Homo sapiens: one gene and its partners. The protein of the gene in region 1 purifies or fractionates together with the protein of each later gene. This does not show direct contact. Each region holds a gene or a part of one and is shown in the gene's direction. Other genes may lie near its edges.

The links.
Region 2: the proteins of CYTH1 (region 1) and FRMD4B purify together in Homo sapiens (affinity purification with mass spectrometry; one large-scale study listed by BioGRID and IntAct). This does not show direct contact.
Region 3: the proteins of CYTH1 (region 1) and FRMD4A purify together in Homo sapiens (affinity purification with mass spectrometry; one large-scale study listed by BioGRID and IntAct). This does not show direct contact.

What each region holds. Positions count from the first base shown.
Region 1 is NC_000017.11:78,775,760-78,779,410, reverse strand, and holds part of CYTH1 (cytohesin-1), read left to right. Parts: intron 1-3,651. UniProt on the Homo sapiens protein: Promotes guanine-nucleotide exchange on ARF1, ARF5 and ARF6. Promotes the activation of ARF factors through replacement of GDP with GTP.
Region 2 is NC_000003.12:69,180,033-69,183,683, reverse strand, and holds part of FRMD4B (FERM domain-containing protein 4B), read left to right. Parts: intron 1-966; coding exon 967-1,086; intron 1,087-1,973; coding exon 1,974-2,785; intron 2,786-3,651. UniProt on the Homo sapiens protein: Member of GRP1 signaling complexes that are acutely recruited to plasma membrane ruffles in response to insulin receptor signaling.
Region 3 is NC_000010.11:13,659,368-13,663,018, reverse strand, and holds part of FRMD4A (FERM domain-containing protein 4A), read left to right. Parts: intron 1-2,465; coding exon 2,466-2,703; intron 2,704-3,528; coding exon 3,529-3,651. UniProt on the Homo sapiens protein: Scaffolding protein that regulates epithelial cell polarity by connecting ARF6 activation with the PAR3 complex. Plays a redundant role with FRMD4B in epithelial polarization. May regulate MAPT secretion by activating ARF6-signaling.

The sequences.
Region 1 (3,651 bases):
TTTTTTTTTTGAGATGGAGTTTCACTCTTGTTGCCCAGGCTGGAGTGCAATGGCGCAATCTCGGCTCACTGCAACCTCTGCCTCCCAGCTTCAAGCGATTCTCCTGCCTCAGCCTCCTGAGTAGCTGGGATTACAGGCATGCGCCACCACGCCTGGCTAATTTTGTATTTTTAGTAGAGACAGGGTTTCTCTGTGTTGTCCAGGCTGGTCTCAAACTCTTGACCTCAGGTGATCTGCCTGCCTAAGCCTCCCAAAGTGCTGGGATTACAGGCATGAACCACCCCGCCTGGCCTGTTCCCCTTTCTACAGTTTTAAATATCATCCTTTTATTTTGGAGGAACTAAAAAGATTGAAGATTCCCCACCCAGAGGGTCACCACACAAAAAGTACCTGATGGTGTAAGATGATCATATGAAGAATAAGACTCCCAAGTTCTTTAAGGTTTGTGTTAGTCTCCAGAACTGTCCATTTCCCTCATAGGTTTCACAGAGAATTTACCTTGACCAGATCCCACATTGTAAAAGGAAATGTGTGTGATGGATTCATAAAGCATATAACATGACGTGTTCAGACGTCACCTCAGAACTTCCATTGTTTTCTTTTAAACAAACTTTTTATTATTATTATTTTTTAAATAGTTGCAGAGTCTCACTATGTTGCGCAGGCTGGTCTAAAACCATCCTCCCGCCTTGGCCTCTGAAAGTGTTGGGTTGAGTCACTGTGCCAGGCCTAATTAAACTTTTTCTTTCTTTTTTTTTTTTTTTTTTTTTTTTGAGATGGAGTCTCACTGTGTTGCCCAGGCTGGAATGCAGTGACGCAATCTTGGTTCACTGCAACCTCTGCCTGCTGGGTTCAAGTGATTCTTCTGCCTCAGCCTCCCAAGTAGCTGGGATTACAGGCACCTGCCACCACACCCGGCTGATTTTTGTGTTTTTAGTAGAAATGGGGTTTCACCATATTGGCCAGGCTGGTCTTAAACTCCTGACCTCAAGTGATCCACCTGCCTTGGCCTCCCAAAGTGCTGGGATTACAGGCGTGAGCCACCACGCCCGGCCCTAAATAAACTTTTTAAACCTTAATTTTTTTTCCCTTTTTTTTTTTTTTTTTTTTTTTGAGACAGTCTTGTTCTGTCACCCAGGCTGGAGTGTGGTGGCACAGTCTTAGCTCCCTGCAGCTTCCACCTCCTGGGTTCATGCGATTCTCCCTCAGCTTTCTGAGTAGGGGTTACTACAGGCACATGCTATCATGTCTGGCTAATTTTTGTATTTTTAGTAAAGATGGGGTTTCCCCATGTTGGCCAGGCTGGTCTTGAACTCCTGACCTCAATTGATCTGCCTGCTTCAGCCTCTCAAAGTGCTAGGATTACAGGCCTGAGCCACCAAGCCCAGCCTAAACCTTAATATTTGATTTTCAGAATAATGAGAAACATTTCTTGTGGTGTTAACTTTGTGTGTGCGCTGTTTTCAACAGTGCTTCCTCTGTCCCTGTCCCTGTCCCTGCTGCGTAAGTTGGTAACGTTTTGTGAATCAGCCTAGGACAGGTACCACTGTTTTTAGAATTCTTTCTTTTTTTTTTTTTTTGTATTTTTAATAGAGATGGGGTTTCACCATGTTAGCTAGGATGGTCTCGATCTCCTGACCTCGTGATCTGCCCGCCTCAGCCTCCCAAAGTGCTGGGATTACAGGTGTGAGCCACCGCGCCCGGCTTTAGAATTCTTTCTGGAGGGAAATGCATTGTAATTTCCTGGCTACCTTTTAGTATTAAAAAACTTTTGGAACATAGCTCATTGATAATATGCTATAGAAAGAGAGTCTTAGAGTTTCTCTGTCCAATTAAAGACAATTTCAAAAACCAACAAAAAGGCTTTCTCAGTTCCAGTACTCTTTTGTATTCATTAGATAGGGACAGTTTGGTTCAGACTACACCTGTGTGGGATATATCTTTACTGGTTTGTTTATTTATTTAATTTATTTATTTTTATTTATTTATTTTTGAGACGGAGTCTTGCTCTGTTGCCCAGGCTAGAGTGCAGTGGCGCAATCTCGGCTCACTGCCAGCTCTGCCTCCTGGGTTCACACCATCTCCTGCCTCAGCCTCCTGAGTAGCTGGGACTACAGGCACCCGCCACCACACCCGGCTAAATTTTTGTATTTTTAGTAGAGACGGCGTTTCACCATGTTAGCCAGGATGGTCTCGATCTCCTGACCTCGTGATCCATCCGCCTCCCAAAGTGCTGGGATTACAGGCGTGAGCCACCGCGCCCGGCCTTATTTTTTTTTTTTTGTGAGACAGAGTTTCACTCTTGTTGCCCAGGCTAGAGTGCAATGGGGCGATCTCGGCTCACCGCAACCTCCGCCTCCCAGATTCAAGCAATTCTCCTGCCTCAGCCTCCCAAGTAGCTGGGATTACAGGCATGCGTCACCACGCCTGGCTAATTTTGTATTTTTACTGGAGACAGGGTTTCTCCATGTTGGTCAGGCTGGTCTCGAACTCCCGACCTCAGGTGATCCCCCTGCCTAGGCCTCCCAAAGTGCTGGGATTACAGGTGTGAGCCACTGCACCTGGCCTATTGGTTTCTTTTTTTAAAAAAAAAAAAACTGTTTATGGCACTGTGGAGTCCCACCAGACAAACCATTAACTTAAGAAAATACTATTCTGCTCAGGAAAAAGAAAAAAATCGTAAAAATTAAATTTTGCATACATTTTCTTTATAACATGCATACTGTGTGTACTTTTTTTTTTTTTTTTTTTTGAGACAGAGTCTCGCTCTGTTGTCCAGCCTGGAGTCCAGTGGCACGATCTTGGCTTACTGCACCCTCTGCCTCCCGGGTTCAAGCGATTCTCGTGCCTCAGCCTCCTGAGTAGCTGGGACAACAGGCGTGTGCTACCACGCTCAGCTAATTGTTTTGTATTTTTAGTAGAGATGGGGTTTCATCATGTTGGCCAGGCTGGTCTCGAACTCCTGACCTCAAATGATCTGCCCGCCTCAGCCTCCCAAAGTGCCGGGATTACAGGTGTGAGCCATTGCGCCTGGCTTGTGTGTACTGTTGCCAGTATATATTTCTGTGTAATAATGTTCAGGGTTGTAAACAGAAAACCACATATAATGCACTTTAAGGGAGTATTTGCGGGATTTTCCAGAGAGTATGTTCATCCTGTTGCTCTGTAATGGTCATCATTTTGGGGCTAATGACTGCAGTTGCCGTGATTCAATTATGAACTTCCTTTTTAAGCATAATTTCTTTTTTTTGTTGTTGAGACAGAGTTTTACTCTGTTTCCCAGGCTGAAGTGCAGTGGCGTGATCTTAGCTCACTGCAACTTCTGCCTCCTGGGTTCAAGTGATTCTCCTGTCTCAGCTTCCCAAGTAGCTGGGATTACAGGCATGTGCCACCACACCCGGCTGATTTTTGTATTTTTAGTAGAGACGAGGTTTCACCATGTTGGCCAGGCTGATCTCAAACTCCTGACCTCAGGTGATTTGCCCACTTCAGCCTCCCAAAGTGCTGGGATTACAGGTATGAGCCACCGTGCCTGGCCTTTAAGCATAATTTCTATATAAACATTTAAAATGAAAGTTGCTGGAGTCTATCATGTTCATTATAGCAAATGCATGTCTTATTTTTGTTCCTTTCAAGAAGTTAGCTTCAATT
Region 2 (3,651 bases), on another chromosome or scaffold:
GGTGAAACCCTGTCTTTACTAAAACTACAAAAAATTAGCCAGGCGTGGTGGTGGGCGCCTGTGGTCCCAGCTACTCCGGAGGCTGAGGCAGGAGAATGGCGTGAACCCAGGAGGCGGGGCTTGCAGTGAGCCAAAATCACACCACTGCACTCCAGCCTGGGCGACAGAGCAAGACTCAGTCTCAAAAAAAAAAAAAAAAAAAAAAAAAATTAACTTCTAATTGTGTTGTCACCATGCTGGGAAGTAGACATAGTGACTTAAAGCTGTTGTTCTTAGTCCAGGGACCAGCAAACAACAGTCCAGTGGCCAAATCCATCCTGCTGCCTGTTTTTGCGCAGACCGTGAGCTAAGAATGGTTTTTATATTTTTAGGTAGCTGGTGGTGGGGGGATCAAAAGCAATAATATTTTACAACCTGTAAAAATGATATGAAATTTAGCATCCATAGGTCATTTTCTTGGAACACAGCCACACCCATTCTCTTACATATTATCCATGGCTGCTTTTGCACTGAAAGGGCAGAGCTGAGTAGTCGCTCTAGAGACCATCTGGCCCACAAAGCCAAAAGCTATTTAGTATTCTAGACTGTTTACAAAAAAGGAGTTTGCTGAATTATACATCCATCCCTGTTCACCACAAAGATTTGATCATCTAAGGACTGTTTTGAATGTTCAGGTGCCTACATAAACAGCTCTAGTTGCTTTGAGTCTTTTTATTCAGTGTACTCTTTATTAAAAGTCCTTTTTTTCCCTACATATTTGTGACTCAGAAAGTCAGACCATATGTGCTCCCGCTGTTTTAGCGGGTTTTCTTTGTGGTTTAGTGAACCACAAAGACACTCTTCCTATCTTTCTCCCTATTTTCCCTTTCCTTGGGCTTCTAGTAAGTTTTGTATCTGCTTATGACAAGTTTGCCAGAGATGTTGAGAGACTCATCATTTCCTGAATTCTTCTTTTTATCATCACAGAGAAATGCTGTCCACACACAGCAGCCCTTACAAAACTCTGGAGAGGCGGCCCCAGGGAGGACGAAGCATGCCCACCACGCCAGTTCTTACCCGAAACGCCTACAGCAGCAGCCACTTGGAGTAAGAGAGCTTCTTTCTCATTGCTTTAGCTGTCTTGATTTTTGCTTTGAGGTTCTGTCTTGCTTTATTGTGTTTTTTAATCATTTCAAGTGACTTTCTGTAGCAGGACCTTGTTTTATGGTTTTACATTTTCTGCTAACTTATGGTTTCAAATATGTTGGCAAAGAAAATGTATTTGATTTGTTCAAATATACATTAGATTTTTAGTACCTTAATTTCCCCAGTCACATATTACCATTCATTATTCAATGGTGAGGATGAAGTTAGTAACAATAGCAACATTTTGAAATGTTTGTGAGTGCTGTGCTAAATGTTTTATATTCACTGGATTATTTAGTCCCTACAGCAAGCCTTTTGTGAGGTAGATATTATATATTGTTTTCATCCTCATCTTACAAAGGAGGAAGCAAGATTCAGAGAGGTTAAATATCTGGCCTGAGCTCATACAGCTGGGAAATAGCAGTGCCATGACTCAGCCCAGCCACCTCTGACCTCCACTCGAATGTACCATATCTTCATATCCTCTAGGAAGACAGGACCCTCCAAAGACACGTTGGGTTTTTTGTTTTTGTTTTTGTTTTTTTTTCCAGGCTGTGATGCAAACTGTGCATCCTCAGTCTGTGTCTTTCCCTACCCTCAAGGAAGGATTTGGCTTGCGCAACTAACAGAAGCCAGCTCTTTTCTCATTTTGACCATGGTCAAAATGAACCTACATGTGAGCCAACAGATTTGGAGAACAATGGATTCTATTGTGCAGTCAGCTTTGGCAACTCAAAGTCCTATTGTAATTCACGAGCTATTCAGTCATTCAGCATGCTATTCTTTTTTCTTATTTGGGTCCTCCTTTTCTTCTTGGTGTTGAGAAGTTTGCCTTTCTCCTCTTTCAGACCCGAATCTTCATCTCAGCACTGCCGCCAGCGGAGTGGAAGCCTGGAGTCCCAGTCCCACCTGCTCTCCGAGATGGACAGCGATAAGCCATTTTTCTCCCTCTCCAAATCCCAAAGAAGCAGCAGCACAGAAATCCTCGATGACGGGTCTTCTTATACAAGCCAATCAAGCACAGAGTATTACTGTGTGACACCAGTTACCGGCCCCTATTACACCACCCAGACCCTGGACACTCGCACCAGGGGTCGGAGGAGGTCAAAGAAACAGAATGTTTCTACTTCAAATTCAGGAAGCATGCCCAACCTAGCACAAAAGGATAGTTTGAGGAATGGTGTTTACTCAAAGAGTCAGGAGCCACCGTCTTCCAGTTACTACATTGCCGGGTACACACCCTATGCAGAGTGTGACTTTTATTACAGTGGTGGTTATGTCTATGAGAATGACACCGAGGGACAGTATAGTGTCAACCCTTCCTACCGGTCCTCAGCCCACTATGGATATGAGCGCCAGAGGGACTACAGCAGATCCTTTCACGAAGATGAGGTCGACCGGGTACCCCATAACCCATATGCAACTCTCCGGCTGCCAAGGAAGGCTGCTGCAAAATCGGAGCACATCACCAAAAACATCCACAAGGCCTTAGTTGCCGAGCACTTGCGTGGCTGGTACCAGCGGGCCTCTGGGCAGAAGGATCAGGGACACAGCCCGCAGACCAGCTTTGACTCAGACAGGGGATCACAGAGATGCCTGGGGTTTGCGGGGCTGCAAGTACCTTGTTCTCCAAGCAGTCGTGCATCCTCGTACTCTTCAGGTGAGAATACTGTAAAAACACGCAACACCTGGATTTTATTTACATCGTGTTTCCTGCCCACCTAAAACCGCCTCACGGATCATGAGACCAGTACTCAGGGTCAAAAGTGGGGCAACCATTCGGTGGAACCCCACAATAAGAATTTCCAACTTAAAAACAGTTCTTTCCAGCTCTCCAAAGAACTCAGTACACATGAGTCTAATGAAGCAAATTGTAGATTCAAATCCAGCAAACATTGATTGAGCATTTACTCTCTGTGCTGCCCTGTTTTAGGGTTTTTTTTTGTTTTTTGTTTTTTGTTTTTGAGAAGGAGTCTCACTCTGTCGCCTAGGCTGGGATGTGTTAGGGGTTTCACTTGCTTTGTCTTTTTAGGATTTACGTTGACAGGCACATCTCTTAAATGTGTTCACGTCATTGAGGCTTGATATTTTAAAAGAATAAACCCTCAGGTAAGCAGAAAACATTAGAATTATACATCCCTCCTGGTTCACCACCAAGATTGATCATCTAAGGACTGCTTTGAATGCAAGCCTGGGATTATGCAGGTACTTAGGCAAGTGCCTGCATAAGGCTCGTAAGAATCCTTATAGGAGCTGGCATTGATTAAGCACTGTTCTAAGTAATTTGCTTTTTTTTTTTTTTTTTTTTTTTTGTAGAAACAAGGAGGCTTAGGTTGGGTCTTGCTATGTTGCCCAGGCTGGTCTCAAACTCCTGGCCTCAAGCAACCCTCCTGCCTTGGCCTCCCAAAGTGTTGGGATTACATGTGAGAGCCGCAGTGCCTGGCCATGCATATTGTAATTCAGTATTCATATATACCTATGTTGTGGTTGACTTAAGGGATTTTCAAAGATAATTTTGATTAGAGA
Region 3 (3,651 bases), on another chromosome or scaffold:
GTTTGCCATGTTGCTCCTGGGTTCAAGCGACCCACCCACCTCGGCCTCCCAAAGTGCTGGGAGGATTACAGGCAGGAGCCACCATACCTGGCCCAAAACCACGTTTAGCTAGACAGAGAATCTACACACTAGGCATAGCTTCCTTTTGAGTATTCATGGTATCTAAAAGAAAAGGGTAGAAATTGATTTAGATCACAAATCAAAGATTGAAACCCACTAGGAGAGTGTAAGGATCGTGAGAAGAAATGGAACACACCCTCTGTTGCTTCCCAAGACAGTAGTGAAAGTAAGAGGGGAGATATCCCAGTAGATACACACTCAGGCTGGAAAACTGTCTTATTATTTCCCACTGAACTCTTAAAACCTGGCAGTTAGGATATTTTCTTGGGAAATTCTTAAAAAAACAGAACTGATCCCTCCCCCAACCCCCATCACCACCATACGTCGGGGAAGAAAGAATTCCAAACCCAGAACCATGTGAGAATACTCCTGTGGATGTTTAACCATCGTACTGGGAGGCGGGTACATTAATTATATGGAAATATATTAAGTGGCAGTTAATTTTTTTGCCCTGTATGGAAACCTCAGGCAGGCAGTGATAAGTGGCTGTTCAGATGGAAAGCATGAAAGGTCCACACTAGTCATAGTAATAATGATAATTGCAATAATAATAATGATTGCTCTTGATGTGAGGAAAGTCTGGCGGATTATTTACCCAGTCACCTTGGCTGTGCTATTAGAAATCAGATTGGAATATATTTGTCTGCTTCATTACAAGCCGGGGACGCCATTGGGCTACAAGGAAATGGGGGGCTTGAGCATCAGAGATCCCAGCCCTGCGGTTGGCCTCTGAGTATCCCAGTCTCCCCTGGAAAGGGAAGAAAAATTGAGAGATTCCTTGGTAGTAGAGGGGTGCCTGGAGCAATAGGTAATGTCACGGGGTAATTTTGAGATATCATTCCGTGATTCCAGCTTCTTCCCCGTGTTCCAGATGCAGACCCCTGGACTTCCTCACAGGTGTCGGCACATCCTTTTGCCACAGTCCCACTGCAGGGTCTCTTTCTGGGGACTCTTCCTTTACTGATTTGAGGGCAAAGGAGGAGTGGGTGCATAGTGGGTGTCCACGGCTGGGGGACTGAGAATTAGGCTGTGAAACAAGTCGCTGGAAATGGATTTAGGGGCAAGTGAATGGTAGTTGGTTGGTTGTAAGGTTTGCTTCTGTGCTTTTTTCCCCTCCACCTCCCATGTCTGCCTTCCCTGTGAAGCCTGAATCGTTCCCTCCTCTCTCTTCTCAATGCTGACCTGCCCTAGCCTGAAGTCCTCATTCATCCCCCTCTCTAGTCTCTCTCCCTTCCTTTCTAGTTTTAGAACACTGCCAGGTGAATAGTTCTAAAACAGGATTTTTCACTCCGACGCATCCGTGCTTAAGACATCGCAAAGTTTTCCTGTGGCTTTTCAAAATCTCAACTCGGAATTCCAGGCCCCCATCAGTCGGGCTCTTGGCTCACATGGTGCACACAGAAGGCGGCTGTGCTGGCCAGAGCTCTGCCCTTACTCCCCCTGCCCCTCCTCACCAGCCCCTGCCTGGCCAGATGTGCCTGCAGCTGGTACCCTGCCCTCAGGGCCTCCACACTTTGGTTCAAGCCCTTCCTTCCTCCTCCTCTTTGCCTGCCCACTGCTCAAGCCCCTTCAAGACCAGCCTCTCCCACAGCACCTCCTAGACTCACTGAATTTGCTTTTTCTGAAAGTCCTCTAGCGCACTGACGTGTTAGATCATTTCTTTCCTGGAGGCAGGGAATCATTTATTAATACATAATCTTTGTAGCTCATCTCCTTAAAAAAGTTAAGGCAGTTTCAAAATTAAAATATAGAGGAAGAGATTAAAAGAGAATAAACACAGCTCTGGGGGAAAAAAGCAGAGTAGACACCCGATCCACCCAGCAGGTATTTACAATGGACATATAGACCCTCATTCATTTTTTCTTCTCCAACCAATGGTTATCAAGCACCTACTATGTGTCGGCTGAGGATCTAGCAGCAGATGAAACAGACAAAACTCTCCCAGAACTCAGACCCTCCCACAGTGAATCAGATGCTTAGCATCTGTTGAAAGACAACTTAGCACTACAGCAGTAACTACATTTTGCTGTTTAGTGTGAAGCAGTCATTTGTTGGTGGTATTTAATGACGTTCAGACTTCACTCCATTCGTGTCTAATCAAAAGTGACGCATCTCTTCCCATGCAATCCCGCCTGCAGTGGAGGTTTGGCTTGCCCTGGTTTGGTTTGACTCGTCTTGACTTGTCTTGGCAACTGGGGAAGAGTTTCAGGGTTTCTCATCACAGGGGTGAAGGTGTGGGTTTGGCTGTGTGGCTCCAAGGTGCGGGTGGAGGGGTGTAGGGGTTCTGTCTCAGCCTGTGGGAAGGATGACCGGGGCTCAGTTCCTCTCTTCCTGTCTTTGTGCAGAAGACTCTCAGGTTACCAGCACAATATCCCCCCTACATTCTCCTCACAAGGGACTCCCTCCTCGGCCACCGTCGCACAACAGGCCTCCTCCTCCCCAGTCCCTGGAGGGACTCCGACAGATGCACTATCACCGCAACGACTATGACAAGTCACCCATCAAGCCCAAAATGTGGAGTGAGTCCTCTTTAGATGAACCCTATGAGAAGGTCAAGAAGCGCTCCTCTCACAGCCATTCCAGGTGAGCTGCATCGTGAATGAGGCCAAATGAGGCCTCCCTCTATGCTCTGGAAGAATCAAAGGGCCGTCCCAAGTAGCATCCACGGTGACAAAATCCACATCAACCTAGTTCCTCCCCGTGGGGTTTGCCTTTCACGGGGCCGTGCTCACAGCGCCCTCTGCTGCCGACACTGTTGAGGTACATTTTTGTGACTCAGAGAAATTGGGGCTTTGGCCCACAATCAACGTGATGGCAGATGGTTTGAATGCTGTTAAATTCCAGAGGAATTAATTAGGAAATCTCAGGCAGCGCTATTCTGAAATAGCAAGTGAAAGTCCACTCGGAGCAAATGCAGAGTGGTTCAGAACTCTACCCCCTCATCCAGCAGAATTCTCCAGCCAAGCAGCTGTAATCCAAGCTGTGTATTATCAGCTCATTACCGGGCTGACTTTGTAGGGAGGTTTTTTTTGGGGGGGAAGGCATTTTCGGTCTGCTTCTCTGTTTTTCCCATTTCCTTTAATCACCCTACCAAGCTCCAAGGGGGGTGCCAGGACAGGTAAATATTTGTTTCTTGGAAAACAAAAACTGTAAGGGCAGGACCGTCACACTGCCTGACACAGAGAAGGCTGACCAGGGTTTTCCTCTCATATTGCCTAGGTTGGGAGGGGGGAGGGCATACCCCCTGCTGGGGAAAGGCTGAGAACCACAGTAGAGGTCTGACCAAGCGAGGTGGGAGTCACGGGCGAGCTTTCCCCACATGCTGGGATCATTGTCCTGAACTAGCCAGCCCCCCAGGAAAGGTGCTGTCTGTCTGGCGGTGACCACGTGGCATCCTTGGCTTTGCAGCAGCCACAAGCGCTTCCCCAGCACAGGAAGCTGTGCGGAAGCCGGCGGAGGAAGCAACTCCTTGCAGAACAGCCCCATCCGCGGCCTCCCGCACTGGAACTCCCAGTCCAGCATGCCGTCCAC